Homo sapiens: one gene and its partners. The protein of the gene in region 7 purifies or fractionates together with the protein of the main gene of each other region. This does not show direct contact. Each region holds a gene or a part of one and is shown on either strand. Other genes may lie near its edges. The genes, in order: ITSN2, ARHGEF7, ITSN1, GIT1, SNX33, EPS15L1 and NCKIPSD.

Region 1 (4,198 bases), on a different chromosome or scaffold from region 7:
CCTCCTGAGTGGCTGTGACCCAGCAGAGGTCACTGGCGTGGAATGGTTACAGCGTCACCAAACCACTCCACGGTGGACACATTCAACCGAGCGGTAACATCTGGTGGTCTGATGCCTCATTTCCAAGTAATACTTTTTATAGCCCTGAAAATGGAAACCTTGGCATCTAAACAAACAGAGCTGAACATGTGAACACTAGGACAAGGCACTGTACTATGGGGTTTGGTTTCTTTATGGGAAAGGTGTTTGCATAGATTGCTAGCTATTTAGTGTGCAGGAAAACAGAGCCCCCAGCGTGCATGGCTTTGTGAGGGGTGAAGCTGCATGGTGCTCCCTCAGCCCCAAGAGAGCGCAGTCTCTCATTCTCCAGCCCCAGCCTTGTGGGCTGTCCCGCTGGTGCTGTCCTTTAGAACCCCTACAGGAGAGTTTTTTGCTCAAAAAGCTGCAGGTCAAAACGGACCCAGACCTCCCCGGTGGGGACCTCATGCAGCAGCAGTCGGCGGGTCATAGGGCCTTTGCTTTCCTGTTCTGTTCGAATTTTTGCCACTGGAATTTCAGTACGACCCAGGAAATCTGGTGAATAAACACAGGAGAGTCAGAAGTCTTTCTTCTTTATAAAATCATTAAAGAGCTACATCCGGAAGAAGTGGATTCATAAAACCTTCAAATCTGAAACAAGGAACTTCTTTTGGCTCATGGCTGTTGAATGTCGTGAGTGGGTGTGTGGGGAATGATGGCAGGTTTGTGTGTGAGAAGCTGCCACATGGAATTCAAATCTCCATTCTGAGAATGCTCCAGGAGTGGTGTTCACGTCGTGTGTGTAGGGAGTGATGGGTCAAAGACCTGAAACACATCTCAGGCCACCTCCTCCCCTGAGGAAGGCCACCCACCTGCTGCCAAAGCGAGATGACACAGGCCTGTGTCACTTCCCTGAAGTGGCATGGGGTCTGCACACAGCTGAAGCCCCTAGATCTGGACTCCAGGATCTAGGAAACTGGGAAAGCCTTTAGATCCCCTGGCTGAGCGACACTTACCATCTGGTGAAAACTGGTCTCTGTCAAACAGGGTGAGACACAGCACGTCTTGGTAGAGATCCTTAATAAAGAACTGGCAGTTAAAATTCCACTTGGGATTGAGTGTGTCCTGGATGGTCCTGGTGGTGTAGCTCTGGGAGCCCATGCTGATTTCACAGTATGGGTTGCTCTTTCCTGAACAAAAACAAACCACAGACACATGTGGTGCATGCAGGTAAAACGAAGCGACTGACAGTGCCCTCCCTGAGCAGAAGCAGGATTCCAATAATGGGTCACTCGAGACCATGGCAGCAGGAGCCGCTGCCTGGGGCACCATATCCCTGTGGTCTAGTAACAGGGTCTCCAAGTTCCCAGTGCTGACAGCAGCATTAACTGGGGAGTGGCCGAGAGCTCCACCGCCAGGACCACTCCGCACGGAACAATCCTGGGTGAGTGTCACTGCAACCTGCTGCATGCTTCCTCGGCGCAGACACACTCGGGAAGGCGGGCACTGGCACTTACTGGGAAAACAGTGATAAGAATATTGGTCCAATATGCGCATTTTAGTGGCACTGGACACACTGTTAGAAAGCATTCCTTTATTCAGTGTTCAGAAGAGTCATCAGTGGCTGGGCGCAGTGGCACTTTGTCAGTGACAAAGTGCTGTAATCCCAGCACTTTGGGAGGCCGAGGCGGGCAGATCACTTGAGGTCAGGAGTTCGAGACCAGCCTGGCCAACATGGTGAAACCCTGTGTCTACTAAAAATACAAGAATTTGCCAGGCGTGGTGGTGCACACCTGTAATCCCAGCTACTCAGGAGGCTAAGCCTTGAGAATCACTTGTACCCCAGAGGCAGAGGTTGCAGTGAGCCAAGATCGTGCCACTGCACTCCAGCCTAGGTTATACACTGAGACTCTGTCTCAAAAAGTCATCAGCAAAAACTGGGGCAGGGCAGTTATGTCTGCTGAATGAATCAAGGCAGTATTTACCATTTGGTTTGCAGGCTTTTAATTCTGTAGCTTCAATGACATGCACCATCAGGCGCCCAATGCCTGAAGTCTTTTGGGAGCGGGCTACAAAAGAGGAAGACAAGTCTCATTAATCTCTTCTCCAAGGATGCAGACCCTGTCTTTCAAACCAACCATAACACTACCGGCTCCCTGTCCCCATCTGCCACTGCCCTGGGCCCAACAGCCCAGCATCTGGCTGCCCTGTGCCTTTCCCCAGGCTGTGTTGCCTGCTAGGAAGCCCCTGCTTGCTCTTTCTGCCCTGCCTGCTTTCTCTGCCCGTCAGCATCCTACTCATCCTTCAAGATGCAGGTCTGATCCCACATCTACCTCCCAGATCCCTTCCCTCCTCTGCATCCAGTATCCCTCGCTTATGAGCAGCCCACAGCCTGCTGGGTCTGAAATCGTGTGTAATGTCTGTCTCCTCTGCCAGACAGGAGCCAGGGTAGAGCATGGACTGTTTCGATCATCCTTATATTAACCCCTCAATTGCCTAGCAAATAGTAATATTAATAAAATAATACATGGTATTTGTGCAGCACTTAATAGCAGCTAACATTTACTGGATACTTACTTTGTGTTAGGCATGTGCTAGACTTATGTAAATTATATTATTTAAACTGCATAATTACCTGATAATGTAGCTCCCCATTTTACTGATGAGAAACACTGAGGCTTAGAAAGGACTGGAGTGTGATCCACTCAGAGCTGCTAAATGGCAGGGTCAACATTTAAACATCAGATACCAAAGTCCAGGCTCAGTTAAGCCTAGCACAGAGCCTGGCACAAAGTAATTGACAAATGTGGGAAGGACTGAACGCACGGACGATGCACAGCAACATATGCAGATGCTGATGGGAAGCAAAACTCAGGCAGAAAAACCGGATTGACATCTTTGGCCAATTAAGAGATCATATGCGTTATGAAATGATCAATCATTGATTTTTCAACAGCAAGCTTTTAAAGTACCATTAAAATAACACTAAATTAGCAAAAGCTGTTTTAAACATACCTTTTAGGAGTATATAACAAAATGGGGGAAACCTGAATAAAAAAACACATAAAGAGCTGCAACTATAGCAGCCAGGAAGCTGGTGGGAGGCCCAGGCAGGAGGGCAGGCTGCATGGGGGGGCCCGGCGGGAAGGAAGGTGGAGATGCAGGGGGCCGGCGGGGAGGAAGGTGGAGATGCAGCTGGCTCAGAGCACAGGCCCCCTGTGGGGTGGAGGCCACAGGCTGGCCTGGCACAGCTGGAGATGCAGCAGGGAGGTTGGGGCCTGGCATTCATGTGGAGGCTGGAGAAGAATGTGGGAGCTCTGGTCTGAAGGCCACGGTGGGGCAGGGTGGGGTGGGGGGTGCTTTACAAAGACCATTGCGGCTCCACTGAGCAGGTGAGTGATCTGTGCCATGAACACAGAGGACATCACCGGTGCAACAAATCTGGAGCCCCACTGGCATAAGTCACATGCTGGCCCCGATGTGGGAGGGAGTTGCCTTGAGGGAGCTTATGGCCATTAAGTGAGAAAAGCAGGGACTGAGAGGGCGCAAGCAGAGGCAACAGAGGATGAGCGCCCGGAGGATGATCGCAGCCTCAGGACAGCGGGGGGTCCAGGTAGAAGTCACACTGGTTAGGGCAAGAGGGTGTCATGGAGGAGGCTGTGTTTGACGTGGGCCTTGAAGGATGGGAAGAATTTAAGGTGAGGGCAGAGCACTTGAGCTGGAGGGGGAGCTCACATGGGAAGGCCAGGCAGGGCAACAATGGGCTGCTCAACTAGGCAGCTGGATGGGCCGGGCACAGGAAAGAGCTAGGGATGGGGCTGGGTGGCAGGTAGTAGTGGGGATGGGCCCTGAGTGTGGGGTAAGAAATGTGTCGTTAATTTGGGAGGCAATAGGGAAGATACTTCAGCAGGAAGAGGTATAAGAGCAGCTCTGGAAAAAAGAATACTCCAGAAATGAAGAGGATGGGTGGCAGAGAGGAAAGAGAGCCTTGTGCTGCAGCCTGGGTGGGAGATCGGGGGCCTGTGATACGGGGACAGGAAAGGGCGATGGGAAAGTGGCGAGGGAGGAGGACTGCAGTGCAGCTGACCAGGTGTGAGGTGCCAGGGAGGGGCCTGGGTGGCCAGGGACCACACTACTGTCCACAGAGGGTCCCAGGAGGAGCTGCTGCTGGAAGGAGGCT
Region 2 (4,198 bases), on a different chromosome or scaffold from region 7:
CTTTAAAGGCGTTGCTAATAGATCACACTGTCAGAACAAGGCTTCATGGCGAGAGAACACGCAAATCCAAACACACTTGGAGCTGTGGATGCCCATTTTAGACAAAGGCAATTTAATATAAACTGGACGAGGCTTACGTTTCTTTTATATACACTTTTTGGGATTCTGAATTATATATAGCTTCTATAGAGAAAAGATAGGATGATCACCAGCCCCTAAAAAAAAAAAAAGCTGCTCCAAGTGTAATAATAAAGTTATGCACAAAATACCAAGCAACAAGAAAAAAAAGAACATTTCAAATAACCAGCTTCCAGTTTTGTTTTCTCTAGTAATTTTAAAGTACTCAGAAGAAGAGATATGAAACCCAGGGCATAGGACATGGATATTCATTCATATATTCTCACTCTCTCTCTTTTTCTCATCATGGAAAGATTCCAGGTCCAAAGCAGTACAGTAAAATTATTTCAGCCTCACTTCTCTTGAAAAAAAATCCCTCCAAAACAGCCAGGAGAACAAGAAACACAAGCATCATCTTCAATAAAACTAGAAGACACCTGGTTGGGCGCACTGGCTCACACCTGTAATCCCAGCACTTTGGGAGGCCGAGGTAGGCAGATCACGTGAGGTTAGGAGTTTGAGACCAGCCTGGCCAACATGGTGAAACCCTGTCTCTACTAAAAATACAAAAATTAGCCGGGCATGGTGGCGCACACCTGTAGCCTCAGCTACTCGAGAGGCGGGGGCAAGAGAATCACTTGAACCCGGGAGGCGGCCGTTGGAGTGAGCCGAGATCGTGCCATTGGACTCCAGCTTGGGTGACAGAGTGAGATTCTGTCTAAAAAACAAAACAAAACAAAAAAAACTAGAAGACACCTATCCCCAGGCCACCATTATGAAGGCAGGGAGCAGACGGAGGATGGGTGGGGCTTCAGCAGAGACTAGAAGGTCCCATCCCAGTAGCCAGTGGCAAGTGCACCCTCCCAGGTGGTAGACAAGCCACCTGTCTGAGAGTCAGATGCAGGCCTAGGGGCCCCAGCCCCATCACAGCTGGCCACCCCTCTTGCCATCCTTGCAGGGGTCCGAGGCTTATTCTCTGGGGAAAAGTGAACCAAAGAGGCCAGAACATGGAGAGGGCCAGCATGGACAGGAGCCAAGGTGAGGATGGACACTGCTCTGATAGGCAGCAGATGGAGGAGTCTCTGGAGAGACTCACGGCTGCTGGAGAAGAGACCAACAGGTTCAGACTTCTGGGCATCACCAGGCTGCCCCATGGCGAGACCTGCATGTCCCTGGGCCCCAGCAGTCACACAGGACTTCCTGGTCATTTTGAGGGCCTCACACTTGAAAGATCACATGATGTTTCAGTAAATCTCCAACATGGAAAAAAAGAATTGCATAAGAGGACTCAGAGGAAACAGAGACAGTGAATGCAGGGAAGGAAGCACCCTTCAAGGAAACTGTAATGAATGTTCACAGGAAGAGAGGAATCTTCCCAGAAACAGGAAGGGACTGACTGAAAGGGAAGAAACAGAGAGAAACCAGATAACGAGAAAAAAGAACTTTTAGAAATTAAAAAAAAAATAGCCAAAGTAGGTCAAAATAAAAAATGTTAGTAGAAAAGTTGGGAGATAAAGTCAAGGAAATGTCTTTCAGAAGGAGAAGAAACATACAAGTGGAAAGGTCAGCAAATGAGAGACTCAACCCAGCAGGCCTGGCAGCCGCAGGGGCAGGGGGCGGGGCCGGGGGGGGGGGGCGCAGCCCACCAGCCAACGATGGCCAGTTACCAGCCGCTCTGGAGCTCCGTTTCCTAATCTGAAAATGGGGGCGATCCTGTCACCACCTCCCTTATAGGGTGGTGAGGAGGGTTAAATCCATTATTATGGGCAAAGTCCTTAGAACAGTGCCTGGCATACAGTATGCACTCAATAGATATTATCTCTGATTAGTCTTAATAAGATTTCTAAAAAATGAGAATAGAGAAAATACTAGAGAGGAAATTATCAAGGAAATAAAGGATATAGAGGGTATTTTAAACAAAGGTACAAGCACTCTTGTGATTGGGATGGACTGTATTTACATATATCGGCATGTCCCCTAGTTAAGAATGGCACGGGCATGTATGTGTGTGTGTGTGATTTGTTATCTATGGCCATGGTAAACCTCAGTGGCTGGCTTGAGTCAGCCTGGTCCGGGCCTGCTGGTGCAGCTGTGCCTGCTCTGGGCAGGGCAGGCAGCTTGCTGACCCTGGCTGGGCTCTCTTCAATGTTTGAGGTTGGCTGGCTGTGGATAGGTCCAGGATGGCCTAGCAGGGACAACTGAGTTCTCCTCCATGTGATCACACCCCACCAGCACCCAAGCCCTGGGGTCTCCTCGGAGGTAGACACAGGGCCTGAGAGAGTGCAGAAAAGTGCAAGCCTTTCCAAGGCCTGGGCTAGGAACTAACACTGGCCACTTCTGCCACAGTCCATTGGCCAAAACAAGTCACAGCTCAGATTCAAGAAGTGAGGAAGCAGACTCCTACCTCTTGATGGAGGCGCTACAAGGTCACTTTGCCAGGGGCATGGGAGGGTTGGAGAATTGGGGCCACTTCTATCGTCTACCCCAACCCTTCTCCACTCTGCTTTGTGTCCTGGGAGGCTGACCTCTATACACAGTATCCCAGGGCCGCCTCCCAGCACAGGCCTTGGAGCCATTTGCTTAGACTACAGTGTGAACGGTTCTCCCAAGACCGGGCAGTACACAGCTTACACAACCACATGCAGGTGCCCTCAGTGAAGCCATCTGCAAAAGGAGGCGTCTGGGCTGGATGACTCTACATTCCTTCATCCTGAGAACTCACAAATACTTTATACCCAAGATCCTAGCATTTCTCTTCTGACCTGCCTGAAGAGGTGGTATGGCTGGCATCCATGCGTGCGCTTCCATGCGTGTGATTGGGTCACTAGCACGCACACAATAGGAACCTGGTAAAAGGGATGATTAAATGAATTCACATACATGTGTTTGAAATACACTGTGCACACATTCCATTTCAGTTCCCCTCACCGCCTCGCCTTGAGACCCCAGCAGACATGACACCATCCTGCAAAAACAGAGTTGAGAACTGCCAGCCTGGTGCATCAAACCTTAAAAATTCAAAGCTAAAGTTAGAAATATAAAAACATCAAGAGATTAATTCTCCTACCCTAACTTGACAGAACTGATAAAGGAGGGAGAAGTCAGAAGCTGTACCCGGGAAGCAGTCGGACCGGGGCGGCCCCAAAGCCCTCTCTCTGCAGACACCAGGTGGGGCAGGCTGGCCCTCACTTCCCATCTCTGACTCCCGGCCCTGCTGATGCATGAAACTTTATATAAGCGAAACCTGAGTCCACCCGCTCAGCCCTCCCGCTCCCCAACCAGCAGCTGTGTGCACTCAGCAGCTGCGCCCAGATCTGGCGCTGACCAGAGGGCCCTGGAAGCCACGTTCAGCAGGCCCACCAACCCAGACAATGGTGGTCTGTCCAGAGTGGGATGCAGAGGCTGCCAGCCCCCGAAAGTTGCAAGAGTCTGCCCTGTTGTGAGAATTAACCCGTGTTCCTGGATTTGGATGGCTCTGAGGTTCAAATCTTGGCTTACAGTCTTCTGGACACGATGGGGAAGGTTTTCAGTGTCAATCAACAAAACAGTAACTACTGCGTACTGAGGAATGACTTTGTGCCCAGCACATCTACTCATTTACCCTGGTAATGACCTCACTGCCCCCACCAGTGGATATCATTCATCTCATTTTTAGGAGGAAGAAACTAGGACTCCGAGAGGTTAGACAGGTGCCGGAAGTCACAGAGCAAATGGCTGCGGGAACAAAGCCAGGTGTGCCTGACTCTGAAGCACGCAGAGGACCGGGTCTCCCAGTGTCTCCAGGCAGGGACCCGTGGGTTCGGGGGATGCCAGTCCTCCCATCTCCCAGCGATGCACGTGGTAGAGTTGCGTGCCCAAAGGGATGATGTGCCTCTGCCACCTCCCTCGTGCAGTGAGAGACGCGTGGGCGTCAAGCCTACACAAGACTCCAATCCAAACGGCTAAAATCCACCCTACACAAGAACAAACGGCTCTGCCCCCACTCACCTCACAGCCCCCATCGCCTCCACTCTTTACATTTTAGAGTGATCAGTGGCCTCTAAAGGGAGAGAGATGTTCGTGTGTACATAGTACTTGAATT
Region 3 (4,198 bases), on a different chromosome or scaffold from region 7:
AATGGTTCTTAGATGTGGACCAGGGACTGGCATGCTGCACAGGGTGGCAATGAGTGCTCCCCTGGCCGGCGTTGGTACCAAGGAGGATTGCGTGAGGCCAACACAGAAATGAAATAGACACTGCTGAGGACAGTAAGGGACAAGGATGATGGGATTGTAGAAAATGAAGAAATAAAATGGACATAAAGTATTAGAAAAAAAAGGATAGAACTGAGTAATCATTCTAAATTTATAATTGATGTGTTAAAGAAGGAAACTGAATAATGGGTTAGAAAAAATTGTTGACTGACTGTGATCTCCATAGGGATCAGGGCACAGCTTGTTCTTCAGTGTGAAAAGCCGAATGCTCACCTTTCACTCTGCTTTGAGAAATCTTGTTAGAATAGAGGACTCATCAGCACGGTTACAAGGCAAAGGGAAGGAGGGAGAGAGACAGAGACTCATGGTCCAGAAGAGAGGGGGTTAATTCCTAGGGCAAGCTCATGGGAAGAAGGGAAAGGATGGAGTAACAGGGAAGGAAAGGAGTCTGGATGGTGATGTAGAACTGCTAGATAAGGATCTTTTAGAAACAGTGTTTGGCGTGGAGGAGAAGATATAAACAGAGAGGTTAGGCAAAGGGGGTTTTCGTTGTGCTCATTAACAAGGACACAGAAGCTTAGGGAGTTCTGGGTTTGGGTTTGTACTACAAATTTCAAATACATTGGTGAGTTTTCCTTTGAAAAGAGTCCGTTGAAAATCTTGAGTTTTCATAGTTGCTGTGTTCCTTGTCTGAAGTAACGTTTGAAGATAAGAAGCGGGAGAACTTTGAACGTGGCAACCTGGAACTGGAGAAACGAAGGCAAGCTCTCCTGGAACAGCAGCGCAAGGAGCAGGAGCGCCTGGCCCAGCTGGAGCGGGCGGAGCAGGAGAGGAAGGAGCGTGAGCGCCAGGAGCAAGAGCGCAAAAGACAACTGGAACTGGAGAAGCAACTGGAAAAGCAGCGGGAGCTAGAACGGCAGAGAGAGGAGGAGAGGAGGAAAGAAATTGAGAGGCGAGAGGTAAGCAGGCGAGAGTGGAGCCACCCGGAGTTAGTGTGCGATCACCCCTTTTCAGAATTATCCAAGTGATCTATTCACGCCATCTTTGTCTTTTTACAATTCAGTAGTTTTAGTATATTCCCAAAGTTGTGCAACCATCGTCCCTAATTCCAGAACATTTTCATCACTCCAGCTCTTTACCCATTAAGCAGCTACTCCCCATTTCTTTCTCCCTCCAGCTCCTATCATTAATTTTACTTTCTATCTTTCTAGATTTACTTATTCAGGACATTTTTTATAAATGGAATCATCAATATATGGACTTTTGTTTCTGGCTTTCATTTAGCATAATGTTTTCAAGGTTCATCCACATTGTAAAATGAATCAGTCCTTTATTCCTGTTTATGGCTGAGTAATATTTCGTTATATGGGTATACCACATTTTTTAATTCATTCAGCAGTTGATGGTCATTGTGGCTATTATAAACAATGATGTTATGAACATTAATGTACAAGTTTTTGATGATACAATTTTGTAACAAACCACTGATACCAGTAAAGTGTTTTTCCAGACTGTTTTCTCTGTATACACCTATATAAAAATATAAAGGTTTATATGGCGGAGAGTGTAAGGGCTGTATAATTTTTTAAAAACCACTGTAATAGTATCATACCAATTACATTGTTCTGCAATCTTCTTTTTTTTTTTTTTTTTTGTTTGAGACAGAGTCTCGCTCTGTCACTTCCAGGCTGGAATGCAGTGGCATGATCTCAGCTCACTGCAACCTCTGCCTCCTGGGTTCAAGCGATTCTCCTGCCTCAGTCTCCTGAGTAGCTGGGATTACAGGTGCCCGCCACCACGCCCAGCTAATATTTTGTATTTTTAGTAGAGATGAGGTTTCACCATGTTGGTCAGGCTGATCTCGAGCTCCTGACCTCGGGTGATCCACCCGCCTCAGCCTCCCAAAGTGCTGGGATTACAGGCATGAGCCACCGCGCCTGGCCCATGCAACCTTCTTTTTAAACTCTTTTAAAAATATGTCTGGGACATCCTCCCTATATTCTATGGAAGGCTTCGTAAATTTAGCGCCATACCTGGAAAGGGGCTAAGCAAATCTTGTCTCTCTTTCCAATTTTAGTACATTACTGCAGAAGCAACACATGGTTCTTTCATGTGAATGAAAGATAAAAATGAGGAATTTTTCGATGTAAAAAAATAGCCTGAGTGCTGTGCCTCAAGCCTGTAATCCCAGCACTTTGGGAGGCTAAGGAGGGATGATCACTTGAGGCCAGTAGTTGGAGGCCACTGCATTCCAGCCTAGGTGACAGAGCAAGAACCTGTCTCAAAAAAAGAAAGAAACAAAACTTATAGCCATAACTCCTTTTTTTTTTTTTGAGACAGACTCTCGCTCTGTTGCCCAGGCTGGAGTGCAGTGGCACGATCTCAGTTCACTGCAGCCTTCACCTCCTGGGTTCAAGTGATTCACCTGCCTCAGCCTCCGGAGTAGCTGGGATTACAGGCGTGAGCCACCATGCCTGGCTGATTTTTGTATTTTTAGTAGAGACAGGGTTTCGCCATGTTGCCCAGGCTGGTCTCGAACTCCTGACCTCAGGTGATCCGCCTGCCTCGGCCTACCAAAGTGCTAGGATTACAAGCGTGAGCCACTGCGCCCGGCCCCGTAACTCCTTTTTGTTCAGACAGACACTAACAAAATTTTAATTTTCAGAATGAACAAAGATAGGCAAACTTTTCTTCAACGTACCAAAAAAATGATATTCTAGAGTATTTATTCAGAATTATTTAATAGACATTTACCATGTATCAGGTGTAGTTGGATGACCCATGAGTCAGAGGCAATTCCCATAGACTGTCAGATGCTCTGATATGTACTCTATCTAGCAGTCGTCAGAGCCAGTCGTTGGAGGGAGCAAAAGCTTTTGTGGTAAAAAGGAAATGAATGATTAGGAAGTGGGGAGTCGCAGACTTTTAAAACGAGTTAAGTAATAATTTCTCTTTTGGTGGAGTAAAATCAACTCTTGTTTGTTTTTGTTCAGGGGTGTTTTAGTTTGATTTTACTACATAAATTTTCCTTCTTGGCGTGTCAGTAAATAAGAAGGAGCATTTTTAGTTAGCACATCAAGCATTCTTGAAGGCATAAAGAATGGAATTCTAATGGGGAAATAATCCTGTCATCTTACGTAAATATAGTATTATGTAAATATAATACCCAGTTCTGTGTATTCCCTTTATTCCCATAGAAGGAATACTGTATTTTTATGTAATTTTTTGTTTTCTAATGTGATTTCTTGTAATGTTTAATATTTCATCCCTAAAAGGAAAGACTTCCTAGATGCCATTTTTGTGAAAAGACATTGTGTAGTGTAAGAACTGAAAAATTAGTAATTTGTCTCTGTAAATGTCACAGGCTGCAAAACGGGAACTTGAAAGGCAACGACAACTTGAGTGGGAACGGAATCGAAGGCAAGAACTACTAAATCAAAGAAACAAAGAACAAGAGGACATAGTTGTACTGAAAGCAAAGAAAAAGACTTTGGAATTTGAATTAGAAGCTCTAGTGAGTGAAGTTTGGTTATACTTTGAAAATATACTAAGATGGAACCATTAAAAACAGTAATAATTTTTATTATCTTTCATTTGTTCAAGAATGATAAAAAGCATCAACTAGAAGGGAAACTTCAAGATATCAGATGTCGATTGACCACCCAAAGGCAAGAAATTGAGAGCACAAACAAATCTAGAGAGTTGAGAATTGCCGAAATCACCCATCTACAGCAACAATTACAGGTGAGGAAATATGCCTCTTAAAAGCTATTATATTAAACTGGCATCCTTTTCTCTAATTCATTTCATTTACTTACTTATTCAGTAAACATTAAGCAACTGTCTTGTACTAGGCACTGGGAAGCAAAAATGAAGTAGACAGGGTCCTTGTGTGAAAAGTAGCCTGTCAAGGAGACAAACTCAGCAAATATTTACTGAGCACTGCTTCGGGCCAGGTGCTTTTGCAGTTTCTGAGGCTACAGCAGGGACAGACACTCTGTCTTCTGGGAGCTTACCCTCTGTTTGCAGGAGGAACAGAGACTAACAAAATAAAGTGTGTACTGTATTAGAAGATGAAAAGTGCTATGGAGAGTGAGTAGGGAAGGGAATAGAGAGTCCT
Region 4 (4,035 bases), on a different chromosome or scaffold from region 7:
AGCCAGGACACAGTGGCTGGTGAGGAGTTCCCTCCCTACCCTACCCGAGGCCCCCGCCCCACCTCGCGTCGCCCGCCGCCCCCCGTAGCTTCCCTGCCCTCCCGCCCTTGACTGCTCGGCGCCCGGCCCACAGCTGTGCTGAAGCGGAGGCTGCTGCAGCCCTCGCGCCGGGTCAAGCGCTCGCGCCGGAGACCCCTCCTCCCGCCCACGCCGGACAGCGGCCCGGAAGGCGAGAGCTCGGAGTGACGGCCTGGGACCTGCCACTGTGGCGTGCGGCTCCTCCCCGCGCCGCGAGGCCGCGACCTCTGCCACGTGGACCGCGCGCGGGGCGCTCCCTGGTGGCGATGGCGCGGCACTGGCCGAGCACTGCGGGGGCTTTCCTCCTTGTTGGTTGCTGAGTGGGCGGCCAAGGGGAGAAAAGGAGCCGCTTCTGCCTCCCTTGCCAAAACTCCGTTTCTAATTAAATTATTTTTAGTAGACTCTGGAGTTGAGCTTGTGCATCTGCCGCACAGAGACTCCCACCCGGACCCTCGTCCTAGGCCATGGAGGTGGTGTTTGAGGCAGCCCGCCCCCGCTGGCCAACCTGTCCCTGGACATGGGGCTTTAGGAATGTGCTCGTGGGAGGGTGGCGTTATCGTCATACATGTTAGCTTTGTTATTCGCAAACTAACTCTTCCACTAGACAGACGTTCCCAGCACAGGGGCTTCCCTAGGGCGGGGGTCCTGGGGCACTTGCAGTCACCCTTCATGTCTGCCACCTCCCTCCAGCCCCCATTCTCTAAGCATCAGAAACAGCTCATGGTCACTTCTTTATTTTTGATACAAATGTACATGACACGTCTTGACAGCCCACCCACCACCACACAGGTAGGGCCTGGCCCCCAGGGAAGAAGCGGGATGGGGAGAGAGCTGGTGGGTCCCACCGTCTGCCTCTCCAGCCTTCCCAGGCTGCAGCCAGGTTCCCAGGCCTCCAGAGGGTGGGACCACAGCAGGTGCAGGTAGTGATGGTGGGTGCTGGCCTTGCAGAGGTTACGGGGAGGGGACTCAGCTCCACAGCCACCAGCTGAGTCGGGGACCCCGGGGAGCCAGCCCCAGGCTCAGGTGCTCAGTCCTCCACCCTAGCCAGCACACATTCCCCCTCCACGCAGGAGCAGGAGGAGATGGAGGGAAGTGGTTTTTGATTTAAGTTCATAGAGAAGGGGCGAGAGTGGGGAGGGATCAGGGAGGCAGCTGGCAGGACCAAAACTGGCTACCCGGACAGTCCCTGGCTCCAGGTGGGGAAGGGAAGCTGATCCCCATGCTGGTCCCACTGCTCTGGTCCCCTCACCCCTCAAAACTCCAGATGGACCAGGCCTCCGGAACGGCACTGCCGCCCACACACTCAACACGCAGGCACGCGGGGGCACTCAGTTACCACAAAGTTAAAATTAAGGGGTGGGGAAGAAGAAAGAAAAAAAAAAAACAGACTTTCCAGTGTTTGCTGCTGGGGACCCCAGCACACAGGTTGGGGCCTGTGCCCTAGGCAGGGGCCATATGGCATTAAAGGGAGAGCAGCAAGGGGCTGGTGGCTACAGGGCAGGGACATCCATGGAGACTATGTACAAAGGAGGGGATGCCCCCGCTCAGCCCCCAGTAGGGCTGAACTGGCTCATGGGGGTGGGGCGCATGTACGGAGAGCTGCCCCACTTGGAGTGTCCCCACCTGCCCCTTTGCTGAGGGTGCCCTAGAAGGCGAGGGGCTGGGAGTGATGCCTTGCAGGCCCCTGCTCACTAGGAGGGGGGAGATGCTATATACAGAGGGGAGGTGCATGGAATGTGGGGGACAGAAGCTCCTGCCCCCCCACCTCCCCATCCTTAGGGGCTCGACAGGGGTGGGCACCAGGGCACCTGGCTGCCAGGGAGTGTGGCAGCACTAAGGGCACTTGTGCCAGTGGCTCTGTTGGGGTGGGGATTAATGTCTGGAGTGGCCCAGCTCCTATGGCCAGTGAGGTCCTAGGGTGCAGGTGAGGGTGTGGGGAGAGAGGTCACTGCTTCTTCTCTCGGGTGGTGATGGTGACCAGCTGCTTGGCAGCCTTGGCGATGTCATAGGCGCACTGGATCACCTGCTGAGTCAGCAGCTGGAAGTCCACTGGGGCGCCGGGCTCTGGGGGCACTGTCTTCCGGCACTCACTCTGCAGCCGGTAGGCGCTGGCGTTGAGCAGCCGCAGTGAGCTCCGCACTGGCTCCAGGGCTGGCCTCTGGAGGGGGCAGGAGTGAGGCTGGACCTTGGACTTTAAGCCACCAGCTGAGATCAGGGCCCAGTTTGTCTGTGTCTCCACCCAGGTAGCGATCAGATGGGATTCTCCACGCCTGCCCCAGCTCGAGGCCCTCCCACTCCTGGTCCTCTCTTTGGCCCCTGTACCTTTGGGAAGAGGGAGGCCATCTCGGTCACAGCCAAATGGATCTTCTCTGAGCAGGGCACGAAGCTGCGGGGAGAAGGGAGGCTATAAAGCAGGGGGCTCTCAAGGGAGGTTCCCAGGGACAGCAGAACCCAGGGCCCCTCATGCTCTCTGCAACACCCTAGAAGCCAACAGGAACTGCATCCCCCTCACCTCCCCCTCCACTCAGTACCTGTCATGCTTGAACTCCTGGGCTGCCCGCAACAGTTCCTGAATGTTCTTGGTGACCTGCTCTGTCTTCAAGATGACATCCTCTGTGCTGGGAAGCCCAGGATCTAGGTCTCCATCCAGGCTTTCCAGCTCTGGGTGGAAGTCTTCCTCTTTGCCCAGCTCTAGAAACCTCTTCCCTTCCAGCCTGAGGCCCAGGTCCAGAAAACAGAGACAAAGATACATATAGAGAAAGACACGTTCCAGCCTCGGAGCCGCCCGCCTTGGTCCTCACACACTGGGGGCCCTCTCAACCTCCCCGCCTCGGCATGTGAGCAGGCTGGACTGGAGACCCAGGGAGCCTCACCCCAGCAGTGGGTCCCCACTTTGCGTGTTCTCATAGTCACTGTCGGCTCCACTGCCGTGGCGGGAAAGCTTGCTCTGGAGGGCGGAGGGAAGGGGCTGTGAGCGCCGTGTTCCTGGACCCACACTGCCCCTAGCCCACACGGCCCCCAGCCACCCTGTGGGCACTGGGCATGGAAACATTACCGTGTGGCGGCTTCCCTCCTGGGAGCAGGACAGCAGCGGGGAGGAGGGAGTGAAGGGCACAGCTGAGGCAGACACCCCTTTCCGGATCTGAAACCCAGGGCAGCGCTGGATGGAGTCAGTGTGCCCCACTGCCCCCCTGCTCACCAGCAGTGCAGCAGGGACCAGGTCAGTCTAATCATCTTAAGCCCCGAATTCAGCACAGAGCCCAGAACCCCCTGGGGCTCAGAACCTACTGGCTAAGATGGACACGCCTTCCCCAGGCTTACCCGGTAAAGGCCAGCAGGGACGTGCACTGAATAGATGGCGTCGTCCTCTAGCTCCTGGGGATGTTAGCACAGCGAGCGTCATGGTGGACCCTGCGGCAGCCCCACCCATCTCCCCACACCTTGAGACCCATAGGTGACTCACAGTGCTGTGGAAAGGCTGCAGCCGCGTAGTGAGCTCGTCCCCAGGGGGGCCCCCAAAGGGCTTCAGGGCAGAGCCAGGTTCATACATGGAAAAGGCCTGGCGATCCCTGCGGTGTGTGCTCCCGCCTGGCGCCATGGGTGTGTGTTCCGCCCGTTCACTGGGGAGTGGAGGTGTGGGCACCGGCCCTGGAGGCTGCCGGAGCTGCAGGTTCTCCGCCTGCAGCTTGTGGATCTATGGGTGCAAAGTGCTGTCAACCCCCTGGAGTCCTGGGGCTCCCCCTCCCACCGAGGCTGCACCCTCACCTCTCGCTGCAGCCTCCGGAGCTCGTCGCTCAGGCTACTGTTGACCTTCATGAGCTGCTGCACCTTTGCCTCCGATGTAGCCAGGGCCTTCTTCAGCTCCAGGTACTCCTGCAGCGTCACAGCCCCGTCAGACAAGTCCGAGGAGTCCATGCTCTGCAGAGAGAGACCTAAGCTGGTCAGCACCTGGGGGCA
Region 5 (4,198 bases), on a different chromosome or scaffold from region 7:
CCACATTCCAGCGAGGCAGACAGAGGGCAGGTGGGCATGGAATCCCTCGCATGGCTGGGCAAGCAGGCCCCTGTCTTTTTCCTCTTAGGTTTCCCATTGTGCAACAGGAAGGATCTTGGGAAGACAGTGCCACAGAGCCCAAGGACCCTGAGATCCTGGGTTTGGACCTGCTTCGAGTGTGGGGAGTTATTGCTGGTGAACTCAAATATACAGTCACTTTTGAGAGTCTTCTCCAGGAAGGTGTCACCAGGGATCTGGGGCCCAGGGCTTATACCTCAGCACCTTGAGTCCGAGGAGGGGAGGATGCTGCAATGGTCCCCTGCCCGAGATAAGCTGAGGGCCCAAAAGTGGAGGGGAGTCAGAGGCCTACAGGAGGGAGATGGCCTGTAGCCCCCTCCTGCAGGGGACAGGGTGATGTACGGACAGCCAGCAACATGGGAGCAAGGGAGATCCCTTCCTACCACACAGGCCAGAATCCCCATGGAAAGCGTACCTAACTTGCTTGGAAAGTAAGGGAGAGAAGAGGGAGATGTTTGCATGCCTCCATAACTTTGCCCATGCTGTTCCTCTCCCCTGAAAGTCCTTCTCCCCCATGTACTGTCTGGCAGGCCCTTGTCATTCTTCAAAACACTGCCCAAATGTTGCCTACTCTATGGAGTCTTCCCTGACCAGTGGAATGCTGTGGTCCCTTCTATGAGCTTCCAGAAATCCCTCACTTAAACATCAGTCATACTGCATTGACTCTGTCTGTGTCTGACCCCGACCTTCACTGAGGACTCCTGAAGAGCAGGCATGTCACAGCCCTGGGTGCCCAGCATCCGACCCAAGGGTGCAGCAGGCCTCGGTGTCTGCTGAATGGATAAGGCAGCAGTGGCCAGGTGAGCAAGCAAAATAGGCTCTAGGGGAGGCTGAGACCCTGGCCTGACCTTCACTGACTGACCGGCAGCCCAGGCCTTGGCCTCGAGGGCTCCTGACTCTATTCTCACCCCTGCTGTGCCCCACTTCTAAGGAGTGGGGAATTTCCCAGGGGCACCCATGACTCCTTGAAAGCTCCTTCTCCCAGGAGGCAGGACAGGCCGCTTATCTCCCCCACCGCTGACCCCTCCCCCAGTCACTGCTGGTATAGGGAGGTCGGGAAAGTGGGGTACACTGCAGTGACCAGGCCCAGGGGAAGGAGGGGGCCCAGGCACACGCGGTCAGAGGTTGTCATACATGCGCAGGGTCTTCTCCAGCTGCTGGCCCACCCGCTGGTAGAAGAGGATCTGCTGGCGCAAGTAGTTCTGCATCATGTGCTTGAAGTCGAGCTCACGGCGCTGGTGGAAGTGGTTCATCTCGGCCTGCAGGGCGAAACCCACCACGCGGCAGCGCCTGCGAATGCCGTCTGCCTCGTCCTGCACCATGCGGCCCTCGTCACTCATGCGTTGGCTCTCCTTCACCTTGGCGAAGGCGCCTGGCATAGGCAGAGCAGAGGACAGCGTGTGAGGGCTCTGATCTCCATGTGCTCCCTGTACCCTTGAGGGCAGACAGCACCCTCATCAGCTCAACTCGGACGTCATTCCTGAGCCCCAGACCCACATTCCAGCCACCTGGGTGTCTCTGCCAGGATGTTACCCAAGCCATCACCCTCAGCACCTCCTAAACCAAGCACATCATCTTCTCTCCAAATGTGCAGTGCCACCAGTAGCCCACATGTGACCAGTCACAGCCCTGCTTGATGGACTATGAATTCAATGAGGATAGAGCCTGTCCTCAACCTCTCTGTGTCTCTGGTACCCAGAACAAGGCCTGGCCCACAGCAGATCCTGATATAGGCCTGCTGAACTGATTCAACCCTGTCCCTCACTGGACTGCTACAACAGCCCCGCCACGTCTCCCTGCCCTCCGCCCCAGCCTCTGACAGGTTCTCTGCAGCATCTAAAGAGGTATCCCAAGCTGGGCACCTTTCCTAGCTCTCCACTACCTACAGATCAAGGTCCACACCAATCTGCCTGGCCTGGGGGGCCCTCACCTCTGGGAGTTGGCCCCTGCACGCATTCCACACTGACCCCCATGTTCGTCAAACTCACCTGGCTCTTTCCTACCTTCCTACCTCTGCCCCCTGGATTCCTATTCATAATTCATGGCCCCGATCAGGTGCCACTTCTACACTGGAGCCTCTCCCAGTTCCCCTGACAGAATGTCTCTCCCATGTCACCTGTGCCCTGGCTCCCCACCCCCACCCCCATCACACTGCTGATTCTAAAACAACTCTTCAAAGGCCACCTGGTGTATCTCCCAGACATGCACGCCCTGTTCCCTCCTCATCCCAGCCCCCAGGGAACTCGAGGAGGTTGTGTAATAACCAGGTGACAGATGGGGGGTGGAGATGAACCTGGGCAGAGGACCCAATTTAGAAGAATCTGAATGAATGAACAAGCAGCTGGTGAATGAATTTCAGTTCTGAATTAAAAGGGACTTGACGAATTCTGCCTTTAAGCCAGTGGGGACAGTTGCTGGGAAGAGAAGGAAGTTTGCCTGTGCCTGGCACTCAGTCGCCGAGGGCTGCAGAGAATCCACCATACAAAGAAGATTAGGAGCAGGGAAGGGTTGGCATAGAGGACAGCACACCCCTGAGCACTGCAAACGCACCCACTACACACAGATAGCATGCTCAATACCCATGCTTTCCCACTTCTCCTTTAAGGAGGGCTCTTGAGGGCTGTCTAGATAATATTCTCTTCACTCCCTGGCTCAAATTGTCCAGTGCATTCTAAATGCATTCATTGAGCACTTACTGTATATCAGGCCCAGGGCTCTACATGCTGGGAATAACTCTGGATGCCTTTAGAAGGGGCAACATCCATGTTAGTTGATAAGTGCATGGCTAATCGGCTAATAGTAGCATTTCAGGCAAACAGACTCAAGTTCAGAGAGTCTCCAGGGCTGCTCACACAGCGCCCAAAAGAAATCTGCATTCCCCAGCTCCCAGCCCACTCAGTCCTTCTGCCACCTTCCCTGGACCACCTCCTGCACCATCTCAACAGCCCAGCCCTGGGCAGCAGAAGGGGGATCACCCCAAGGCCCAGGATAGGACCCAGTAAGAGACTTCAGAGCTAGAAAGGCCCAAAAGATCAGGTGTCCAACCCTCGATTCCACCTCCATCCTACTACTGTACAGAGGAGGCCAAGGCCCTGAGGGGCAGGAACTTGCCCAGGACTCCCAGCCTCTTTCCTGCCTGGTCCTCCACAGCTGGGGGTCGGACACCACTTCTGCTGCAGGGAGCCCATGCCAGGTCCTTCAGGCATATGTGTGGGGCCCCCAGACGTTGGACACAGGGATTCAAGAAGGTCCCAAGGAGTAGGAAGAACCGTAAGAAGAAAGGTAGAAAACAGCAGGGTGAAGAAACTGGAGTTAAACTTCCGCAGAAGGAACCTAGCTAAAGAGGAGATACTGAACTAGCCTGGATTCCACCTGCCGAGAAAGTTGGCACAGTGGAAGTGCATCTATAGACTTTTCCTGTCCATGGCCTTAGAGGAAGGAAAGGCCTCTTTTGCTGATGAGGAGCCCAAAGAGTAAGAATGAACCCATTGCAATGGTTAGGTATCCACAGACAGGCAGGAGGCCAGGGATGGGGAGCAAAGGCTGCAGAGGTCGGGGGGAAACAGAGGCCCCACCCTGTTCTCCGTTACCCCTCCACCCTGTGACTCAGCTCTGGGGCCAGGACCAGCTAATGCTAATGCACCCCACCCCACAGGCTGGGAGTCAGGGCTCAGGCCTGTCCAGCATCCCCCCGACATTCTACTTAAGACTTAACCTGAGAGCTGAGGACCCAGGGGGACCTCCTGCCTCAGCACTCCTCTTACAGGCTGGGTCCCAAAAATGCAGAAAGGAGGGTTGGAGCCCACCAGCTGCAAGTCCCAGGGATATTCCCTAAGCTCCCACCTCAATCCATCTTGCCCCTGCCTCTTGGAGACAGTTAACATCCACCCCAGGTTGGGGGCAGGAGGGAGCAGGAGGTCTGAGTCCTAGTCCTAGCTGTATCCTCTCCAGCAAGCCACTGCTCTTGCCTGGGCTCCAGGTCTCCCCACTGCCCAGTGGGACAGGTTGCACTAGATGTGATGCTGTTGACAACCTCTCACACGGTATAGTGCTTTAAGGAGTTTCCACATCTGTAAAATGGGATAATAATAGTACCTGCCCTATAGTATAGTTGAGGCTT
Region 6 (4,198 bases), on a different chromosome or scaffold from region 7:
GATCAGCTTAGTTCAGGGGTTTCACGTAGCAAGTATGTGTGATGAAGTACAGCAAGGACTTGATCAAACAATTTATCAAAATCCATGGAGCTAGGCCAGGCACAGTGCTCATGCCTGTAATCTCAGCACTTTGGGAGGCCAAGGCAGGAGGATCCCTCAAGCCCAGGAGTTCAAGACCAGCCAGCATAACACAGCAAGACCCCATCTCTACAAAATAAATAAATAAATAAAATTAGCTAGGTGTGGTGGCATCCACCTATTCCAGCTACTAGGGAGGCTGAGGTGGAAGGATCACTTGAGCCCAGGAGGTTGAGATAGCAATGAGCCGTGATTGCACCACTGCACTCCAGCCAGGGCAGCAGAGCAAGATCCTGTCTCTTATATATTTAAAAAAAAAAAATCTATGGATCTAATTCAAATGATGAGAGTTCAGATGGCAAGAGCAACCTGATTTTTACTTGTGGCATTGTACTGTGTAAATTTTGTGAGCCTTCTCAAGTCTGGTGGACGTAAAGATGCCAATAAAGGAATTCTAATGAGAAATGGGCTTGCTGCCTTTTAAGTCACGGAGCTACAGCAAGCTAACCTCAGAAGCCAGGGATCACAAAGAGGTAACAGGAGTCAGACAAGCTGAGCTGTGGCGGGACACAGAAACAAGGGGGGTTCTGTGTCCCACGGGTCCCAAGAAGAAATTACGTATGAAATTATAGCTCTGGGATGACAAGAGTCCTAATAATACTTGCTGGGCAAACAAAAGGAACTCACTGCCTGATTTCTGGAGCCTCAGAGTATGTTAGCAGCAAGATTCTGATGCCAAATTGACTATAAACCCAACACGGGGCAGCCTTGCCGTGGAGCTGGCTCTCCCAGTGACAGCTGGGCTTTAAGGCCGGCTCAGCAGCCACAGGTCCCAAAGGAAGGATATCAGACCCTGGTGGCTGGAAGTGGCTTCACTCAAACCTGGCATGAGGGCAAAATCGGGTGGCCCTTGGGAGGCCCAGACAAGAGCATTGCTGGCCTGGAGATGAGGAAGTTGGAGTAGGGGGAGCATGTGGACTGTAGGCCCCCAGAAATGCTCGTTTTCATGACTGTGATCCTACCAATGCCGTCGTGGGGGCAGGAGCTATACCCTCCCACCCCACCCCACCAGGGGCCACTGGTAAAATCGGTCTAGTCAGAGGGTCTTGAGAGAACCACCAGAAGATCACTAGAGAGGTGGGTTATGACGCTGGGTGACCTGTGCCTACCAGTGAGTTTGGCCCCACTAGCTTCGTTGCCAGTAAAGTACCTCCCCTAACCTGACTTTCAAAACTCTTGGCAAGAGCTCTGCAGACACAGGCTGGGCACGGTGGCTCACACCTGTAATCCCAGCACTTTGGGAGGCCGAGGCAGGAGGATCACTTGAGCCAAGGAGTTCAAGACCAGCCTGAGTAACATAGGGGAGACCATGTTGAAATAATGAGATAAATGAATACTTTTTTTTTTTGAGATAGAGTTTCGCTCTTGTTGCCCAGGCTGGAGTGCAGTGGCGCGCTCTCAGCTCACTGCAACCTCCGTCTCCCAGGTTCAAGCAATTCTCCTGCCTCAGCCTCCCGAGTGGCTGGGATTACAGGTGCGCACCACCACACCCAGCTAATTTTTTTGTATTTTTAGTAGAGACGGGGTTTCACCATGTTGGCCAGGATGGTCTTGATCTCCTAACCTTGAGATCTGCCCACCTCGGCCTCCCAAAGTGCTGGGATTACAGGCGTGAGCCACCGCACCTGGCCACAAGCATTTTTTAAAGACATTTCATCACAAGCTTGACCGTTCTGGGGTTGCATGTTAAGAACTCCCGAGAAACATCCTACTGTGCTCTGAGAGGGGGCTGTGCCCGCTGAGGGCTCCGTACCTGTGTTTGCTTGAGGCTGTGCTTGGGGGACAGGCTCCCTGTGCTGTTGAGGCTGCTGACGCTGCCGTGGGACGGCGTGGAGCGGAGGCTGTCTTTTGGTGGGGGGCTGGCAGGCAGGACGGGGACGGCGCCAGGGAACACAGTCTTCTTTCTCTTGGAGGGTGGGATGAGGGACGGGGGCAGGGCGGAGGGCACGGGCTCCTTCTCCAGGGCTCGGTACACCAAGTGCATGGCCTGCAGGTGCAAACAACAATGGCACTGAAGGGGCAAGGCTGGGGCCGGGACCATCAGGAGAAGGCAGAGGGCAGCCCTTTGGGGGCTGCAGTGACAGGACACTCTGTCAGGACGCTCCCAAGCTGACCAGAGTGAAAAGAAATCATTCCTCATGAGTTATCTTTTATGTGTAACTTTCCAAGACATGTGTTGAATTATTCCTCGAGACTGAAATGCACACAGAAAGAATCCAATCAAGCCAGACTCCATATGCATCCCTTCACCACTCAGGGAGGCCACCAGCTCCAGGGCTGGCACCTTCCCAGTACTGGATTTGGAAGTCTAAAGACACCAGAAGAGAGACCTGTACTTCAAGACGTTCAGGAGTAGTCCCAGCTACTTGGGAGGCTGAGGTGGGAGGATTGCCTGAGCCCAGGAGATGGAGGCTGCAGTGAGCTGTGATCGCGCCACTGCACTCCAGCCTGGGTGACAGAGCGAGACTCTGTCTCTATAAAACAAAACAAAACAAAACAAAAAACAGTGGAACTGAGGATGCATCCATGAGGCAGGCCACAGCCATAGAAATAAATTCCTTGTGGAAGGCCAACTAATAAAAGTGCAAGGAATGATGGTTTTGATTAGCACATCACCATTTGGCAGCCACCATCATCATAATTAATCTTGCCAGATTAAGGCGAGACTCATCAGCGATGGTGGAACTCTCATGGAAGAGTCTGAGAGTCATGGGTGTTGACCGTATCAAGGCGTGCCCCACATGAGATGAACTGAGCACAGAGGGAAAAAGAGCAACTGCCCACAGGAACCCACAACCTTGACCCACCTTGACCCAGTGATGAATGTCAACATGGCAGTAAGAAGACATGTTGACATCACGTTCCCCCAGGTGGGAGGCCCATGTGGGGCGGGTGTGACCTCCGTGGGATTCCTGTCTCACAAGAGTGCATGACCTGGGTCATCAAGAGGACCTGGCAGCCAGGCCCAGGCCTAGGAACACTCCATAACTGCTGGCCTGTGCTCTTCAAAATGTCCACGTTGAAACCAGGCATGGTGGCTCATGCCTGTAATCTCAGCACTTTGGAGGCCGAGACGGGCAGATCACCTGAGGTCAGGAGTTCAAGACCAGCCTGGCCAACAGGGAGAAACCGCATCTCTACTAAAAATTCAAAAAAAAAATTAGCTGGCTGTGGTGGTGGGCACCTATAATCCCAGTTACTTGGAAGACTGAGGCAGGAGAATCGCTTGAATCCAGGAGGTGGAGGATGCAGTGAGCTGAGATCATGCCACTGCACACCAGCCTAGATGACAGAGTGAGACTCCCTCTCAAAAACAGAACAACGACAACAAAAAAACAAAAAGTCCACGTCAAGAGACACGAAGAGCGATGGAGGAACTGTTCTAGATCCCAGGAAACGAAAGACAAAAGACAACAGGATGTAACACACAGGACTGGGTTCTCTTTAGACACAAGGAACATTTTTGGGACAACTGATAAAATCTGAGTAATATCCTGGGATTAGATAATAATAGACACGCTCATACAGAATATAAGGGGTATATACAGGATATAATGAAAACATCATAAATGCAATGCTATGATGTGAATTTCCTGATTTTGAAGTGGATAATGGTTATGTGTGAGAGAAGTCCTTGTTTTTAGGAAATACGCACTGAAGTGTTTGTGGATGAAGAGGCATCATGTCTGCAACTTAACCCTAAAATGGTTCACAGGAAAACTTCGTGCAGCAGTGGGAAGGGCGAGAGAGTGATGGAGGGAGGGAGGAAGAAGGGAGGAGAAAGATAAAACAAATGTAGGAAATTAGTGACACTGGGAAATTTGACTGAAGAGTTTTCAAAAGAATTTTCTGTCGGAGGCCAAGGGGGGAGGTCGCTTGAGTTGAGTTCGAGGCTGCAGCAAGGGTGTTCACGTCACTGCACTGGAGCTGGGGTGACAGAACAAGACTCTGTCTCAAAAACAAAAAATAATTCTCTGTATTACAGGTTGCGTATCCCTTATCCAAAATGCCTGGGACCACAGGGTTTCAGTTCTGGAGTTTTCTGAATTTCTGAATGTGT
Region 7 (4,689 bases):
TCACTGGAGGACTCCACGCTGTTCCAGGCTGTACTTGCCACCATCCCGCATGGCTGTGTTGTGTACAGCCTCGATGGCCCGGTCAATGGCCTGGAGGACATCCTGCTCCAGGCCCTGGGGGGGGCAGGGGACAGCAGTTAGACCTGAAGGCCAAACGGAGGTGCTCAGCCCAGGCCCAGCCCGAGATAGAACCCAGGGCAGAGAACCAATATAGCGAAAGCCTGGAATGCTAGACATAGCACAAAAAGTTGAACCAGAATATGGAATGGGGTTCTCAAACTGTATCACTCAGGGAGCTGAGGCACAGGGTGACCCCCATGCTGCCACATTACATATTAGGTCCTGATCAGGATTTTACCCCACAGCAAGGCTCTTGGCTAAGATGTTTCTGAAAATCAGAGGTCTAAAGCAAAAACATAGCCCAGGGGCTCCCAGCTTGCAGCCAGGAGCGCATACCTCGTCTATCCCTGGTCTTGGCTCAGAGCCCAGGTTGAGATGCCAAACAGGAAGTCTCCAGTATCTGGAATCCTTAATACATCACTCTGCATCTTGCTGATCTTTCACAAAACCAAGGTCATACCCCAGAACAGCCCTGTCCTTGTAAGGGCCCTCTGTAAGCCCTGGGAGCTGAGAATGGGTCAAAGGGACTTGCCCTCCCCAACCCTGCTGCTGGCCCTCATCCCCACAAGATGTCTCAGTAAGCTTCCAAACCCACCCTGGGAAGCAGTTCTGTGTTTGTGGCAAAGGATAAACATGAGAGAGGGGCCTAGCCCCTGTTCCAGGCTCTGTACTGCCATCCCCAACATTCCAGGGATCCAGTCTACTCTGCCTATCTGACATGGGGAGTGTAGGGTAGCAGCTATCAAACCAGCTACCCCCAGCCCTCCCCTGGCCCTGGCACACGTAGTCCATCAGGCTACATAGGAGTCCCGGAGCTGAGATGAACTCATTCCACCATGGGTTTGAGAAGCTTCCCTGATGGGCACAGACAGGTGGGCACAGAGGTCAGCAAAGCCCTCCAGGTGGTATGAGGTGTGCCAGAGTGCAGGGAGAGGAGACAGGGGGATAGAAAGACATGAAGACACACACACACACACACACACACACACACACACACACACAGAGAGAGAGAGAAAGAAAGGAATGGGGAAAGAGAGGAGCTCAGAGAGGAACGGAGAGGCAGACAGAGGGAAACAACGCAGAAAGAAACAGAGCCAAAGCCAGAGTGTGGGGGGAGCCGGAGGAAGAAACAAAAACACACACATGTGGAGTCGGAACGACACAGGCAGAGAGGCACAGAGTCGCAGCAATCCAGACAGAAAGAGACACGCAGAAAGAAACAGACAGTGACAGAGAAGATGGTAGCCTCTCTGCCCTCCCCAAACACCTTGCCCCACTGGTCCTGGCTGGCGGCAGGGGACTCACAGGCCCTTGACCTATGCCCAGTAGGGGAAGAGACAGGACTTTTCCTCAGAGGCCTTCAATGAGACCCCATTCCCAAAAAGGTTGGGTCTGACACACAGCAGCCATGGTGTCCACGGCCCCCACTCCCACCCCTGGCACTCCTAGATGGGATCACGCCAAGGGTCTATGAGGAAGCCCCTAGGCCCCCAGGGCCCATCCTTCCTGGTAAGACCAGATGACACTTCCAAATTTATCCCGTTATTTCTGTCCTGAACTGGGCTGGGACAGGATGTTTCCTAAAGGATAAGGACTAGGACGGGGCGGGGGTGTCTGGCACAGGCCCGGCAGCTCTGGGCCCTTCTTCCCCCTGTGGTCAGAATAGACCAGCTGGAGATACGCACCCCAACCCCCGCAGCAGGGCTACTCTTAGGGAAACAGGAACTGGGACTGCAGCTTCCACTGGAAGGAAATGGGGCCACGATCAGACCAGGAGAAGCTATAAGAACTCACTTCATCACAATGTGAGCAGTCCCCACTCCAGGCTGGGAACAAGTAGGGATGGAACCCATTTTCAAAGCAAGAAAGTTTGAGAAGTCAGGGTTGGGGAGTGGAGCAGACAGTGTCAGCAGGGGCATGGGTCCTTGGTTCAAATAAGGTTGGTAGAGACTTAAGAAGAGCTTAGAGGGTGGCTGAACACAGGCTAGTGAAAGACACTGAAGTACCAAAGCTTGGGTGTTACATAGGGGATGGAGGTGTCTATGGCTCTAGGGTCCAAGTTGGGGGGTTGAGGACCTGGAGAATGGCTAGGGAAACAGGTGGTGTCCAAGGTGGTCCAGGTCTCAGTGGTGGCTCCAACGGGGGGCAAGGCGCGGGGTTGGGGGAAGAAGGAAGGGAGGGAGGGAGGGAGGGAGGGAGGGAGGGAGGGAGGTTGGTTGTGGGGTCCTAGGAATCCAGAGAAGGGGCATATTAAGGATCTGGGGTCTCAGGGATTTGAATAATTGGCCAGGATTCGGTGGGGCTCAGGGTCGCCATTCAGATGGCGGACTCGATACTGAAGGGTCTGGGGTCCTGAGGAGTCTCAGTCCCAGAGTTAGGCTTTTGGTCGATCGGGAGTTGGTCTGTCAAGGGCCTGGTCTTTTGTGGGTGATGCTGACACTTGGGGTCTCAGTCCCCGTGGGTCCGGGGGTCTCAGGGTCAGGTTCTCAAACTCCCTGTCTGATAGAGGTCCTGGCCTCGGGTCCCGGAGAGGGTGGGGTCCCTGGGTCGGTTCCGCGGGGCTGTGAAGGGGTCCTGCCCCAGGGGCGCGGAGGCCGGGCGGGAAGGGGCGCACTCACCTGCAGGCGGCGCAGGTAGGCTGGCGGCACGTAGCCCGTCTCACCACTGCGCGCCCGCGCGGCCAGCCACCAGTGCGCGCTGCTTCGCTCTAGCACCAGGAAGGTCTCGCCCGCGGCGAACGCCAGCGCGTTGGGCTCCGCCGAGCGGAACGCGTACAGCGCGCGGTACATGAGGCCGGGCAGGGCAGGTGCAGGGAAGGTGGCAAGGGCTGCGGCGCCACAACGCCAGGCCGGGAGCGCCGAGCCGCGCCGCGGTTGTCCCGCCCCGTGACACACTACGCAGGCGCGCGCGCGCCCGCCCGCCGAAGCCCCGCCCCGGGCTGTATCGTTCCACGCATCGGAGAGCAGCGCCCCCGCGCGGCCCCAAGAGGTGCGGCGGGGCTGGGGTCGACAGCTCGCTGTCTCCTCTGGTCCCTCCCGGCTCCAGGCCCCTCATCCCCGGACACCGCACCCTCACTCCTCACCCCGGCCTCAGTTTCACCCGTCCAGCCCTCTGCTCCCTTTCCCCGCTTAAGTCCGAGCGCTGCGTCCCGTCCTACCTCCCGGTGAAAGCGCGCTCCGCTCGTAGCGGGTGCGCCCCTACCGCCCTGGGGCAGTGGGTCCCATCTACTAATTGCAAGGACGGCGACCTCGAAAGGATGATCTTGCTGATCCGACACTTGGAAGCCCCCGCGGGGCCCGGCTCTCGGTGTGTCTAGGCCTCACCACCTGTCTTCACCGAGTGCCGGTGGTGGCCAGTGGGGAGCAAGTGTGGGGAGAAGGGGGCCACAAAAGCAGAAACCAGGCGGGGCTATTCCCTGTCTAAAGCCCTCCCATCTTTGCTCCCCACCCCTACTCCTCCTCTCTCTTCAGCTATGGCTGGTTTTCTCTATATTGGGCCTTTGCATATTCTGTTCCCTCTACCTGGGACAATTTTCCCTTCCCTCTCCTATAGTATTTGTCCGTCAAGCTCCCACCCCCATCAATCGCTATCATCTTGCTGTGTTTTATTGTCTTTATAGGACTTAAGATTTGCGATGCCCCTTTCTGAGAGCATAGAGGAGGGCTGAAAGAGGGAGTGGGGTACCACGGTGGCCTTAAGAGCCTATTTGATCCACCCAGCTTTCCAGTCAGCCCAGATCTCCAGATATATGAAATCCGTGTAATAAGAGTGCCTGGAAGACCCAGGGAAGAGGCCCTCAGGGTCCTGGAGAGACTGTGGCTGAGAATGGTCCAGCTACGCTCCACAGGAAGCCCGAGCCCAGGAAGCAGGAGGCGTGTACAGGCCAGTGTGTGCAAGTTTTCTATTTTTATCTGTATTTATTTTTTGAGACAGGGTCTTGCTCTGTCGTCCAGGCTGGAGTGCAGTGGGATGATCAAGCTCATTGCAGCCTTGATCTTCCAGGCTCAAGCCTACTGTCTCTGGGACTACAGGCATGCACCACCACACTCAGCTTTTTTTTTTTTTTTTTTTTTTTTTTTTTTTAGTAGAGACAAGGTCTTGCTATGTTGCTCTGGCTAGTCTCAAATTCCCGGACTCAAGCAGTCCTCCCAGTGTTGGGATTATGGGTGTCTGTCTGACCCAGTTGCCTATTTTTAGGCCTAAAGTACATAGGCCTAGTGTGAGGTTCAGGTGAGGGGTAGAACTGCTAGAAACTGACATCCAGACCCTGCCTTCTCTGCACCAGGTCTGGCTCTTCAGTTCAAGACCTCTCTTGGCCCTTCCTCCTCCCAGAAGCCCTCCTGGGGCAGGGCAGAATCTCGGGGTCTGTGCTGTCTGGGACTGCCTGAAGAATAAGACTGGTGAAATTGCAATGGGGACTAGGGCTGGGCAGGAGTGGTGACAGGTGGTGTGGCCAAGAGGACCACCCTACCTGCCCAAACACGCCTTTTTATGGTACCCTCCATCACCTGGGCCCCTTTACAACACAGTCCATGGCTGCCAATGGACCAGACCCGAGGCTAGAGACCC

What was found.
Region 1: the proteins of NCKIPSD (region 7) and ITSN2 purify together in Homo sapiens (co-immunoprecipitation; 3 studies listed by BioGRID and IntAct, with this or other methods). This does not show direct contact.
Region 2: the proteins of NCKIPSD (region 7) and ARHGEF7 purify together in Homo sapiens (co-immunoprecipitation; 3 studies listed by BioGRID and IntAct, with this or other methods). This does not show direct contact.
Region 3: the proteins of NCKIPSD (region 7) and ITSN1 purify together in Homo sapiens (co-immunoprecipitation; 3 studies listed by BioGRID and IntAct, with this or other methods). This does not show direct contact.
Region 4: the proteins of NCKIPSD (region 7) and GIT1 purify together in Homo sapiens (co-immunoprecipitation; 3 studies listed by BioGRID and IntAct, with this or other methods). This does not show direct contact.
Region 5: the proteins of NCKIPSD (region 7) and SNX33 purify together in Homo sapiens (co-immunoprecipitation; 3 studies listed by BioGRID and IntAct, with this or other methods). This does not show direct contact.
Region 6: the proteins of NCKIPSD (region 7) and EPS15L1 purify together in Homo sapiens (co-immunoprecipitation; 3 studies listed by BioGRID and IntAct, with this or other methods). This does not show direct contact.

Annotation. Positions count from the first base shown.
Region 1 is NC_000002.12:24,203,211-24,207,408, forward strand, and holds part of ITSN2 (intersectin-2), read right to left. Parts: intron 3,066-4,198; coding exon of another isoform or gene 3,037-3,065; exon of another isoform or gene 3,034-3,036; intron 2,088-3,033; coding exon 2,004-2,087; intron 1,209-2,003; coding exon 1,035-1,208; intron 574-1,034; coding exon 416-573; 3' UTR 1-415.
Region 2 is NC_000013.11:111,121,418-111,125,615, reverse strand, and holds part of ARHGEF7 (rho guanine nucleotide exchange factor 7), read right to left. Parts: intron 1-4,198. UniProt on the Homo sapiens protein: Acts as a RAC1 guanine nucleotide exchange factor (GEF) and can induce membrane ruffling. Functions in cell migration, attachment and cell spreading. Promotes targeting of RAC1 to focal adhesions. May function as a positive regulator of apoptosis.
Region 3 is NC_000021.9:33,771,287-33,775,484, forward strand, and holds part of ITSN1 (intersectin-1), read left to right. Parts: intron 1-774; coding exon 775-1,037; intron 1,038-3,442; coding exon 3,443-3,592; intron 3,593-3,681; coding exon 3,682-3,822; intron 3,823-4,198. UniProt on the Homo sapiens protein: Adapter protein that provides a link between the endocytic membrane traffic and the actin assembly machinery. Acts as a guanine nucleotide exchange factor (GEF) for CDC42, and thereby stimulates actin nucleation mediated by WASL and the ARP2/3 complex.
Region 4 is NC_000017.11:29,572,679-29,576,713, forward strand, and holds the end of GIT1 (ARF GTPase-activating protein GIT1), read right to left. Parts: intron 3,997-4,035; coding exon 3,844-3,996; intron 3,773-3,843; coding exon 3,542-3,772; intron 3,454-3,541; coding exon 3,400-3,453; intron 3,221-3,399; coding exon 3,134-3,220; intron 3,026-3,133; coding exon 2,952-3,025; intron 2,793-2,951; coding exon 2,610-2,792; intron 2,465-2,609; coding exon 2,401-2,464; intron 2,258-2,400; coding exon of another isoform or gene 2,237-2,257; coding exon 2,024-2,236; 3' UTR 797-2,023; downstream 1-796. Other genes in the region: TP53I13 (tumor protein p53-inducible protein 13), read left to right, coding at 1-19. UniProt on the Homo sapiens protein: GTPase-activating protein for ADP ribosylation factor family members, including ARF1.
Region 5 is NC_000015.10:75,654,214-75,658,411, reverse strand, and holds part of SNX33 (sorting nexin-33), read right to left. Parts: intron 1,451-4,198; coding exon 1,197-1,450; 3' UTR 1-1,196. UniProt on the Homo sapiens protein: Plays a role in the reorganization of the cytoskeleton, endocytosis and cellular vesicle trafficking via its interactions with membranes, WASL, DNM1 and DNM2. Acts both during interphase and at the end of mitotic cell divisions.
Region 6 is NC_000019.10:16,423,192-16,427,389, forward strand, and holds part of EPS15L1 (epidermal growth factor receptor substrate 15-like 1), read right to left. Parts: intron 2,126-4,198; coding exon 1,892-2,125; intron 1-1,891.
Region 7 is NC_000003.12:48,682,899-48,687,587, forward strand, and holds the start of NCKIPSD (NCK-interacting protein with SH3 domain), read right to left. Parts: upstream 3,018-4,689; 5' UTR 2,910-3,017; coding exon 2,739-2,909; intron 115-2,738; coding exon 5-114; intron 1-4. UniProt on the Homo sapiens protein: Has an important role in stress fiber formation induced by active diaphanous protein homolog 1 (DRF1). Induces microspike formation, in vivo. In vitro, stimulates N-WASP-induced ARP2/3 complex activation in the absence of CDC42.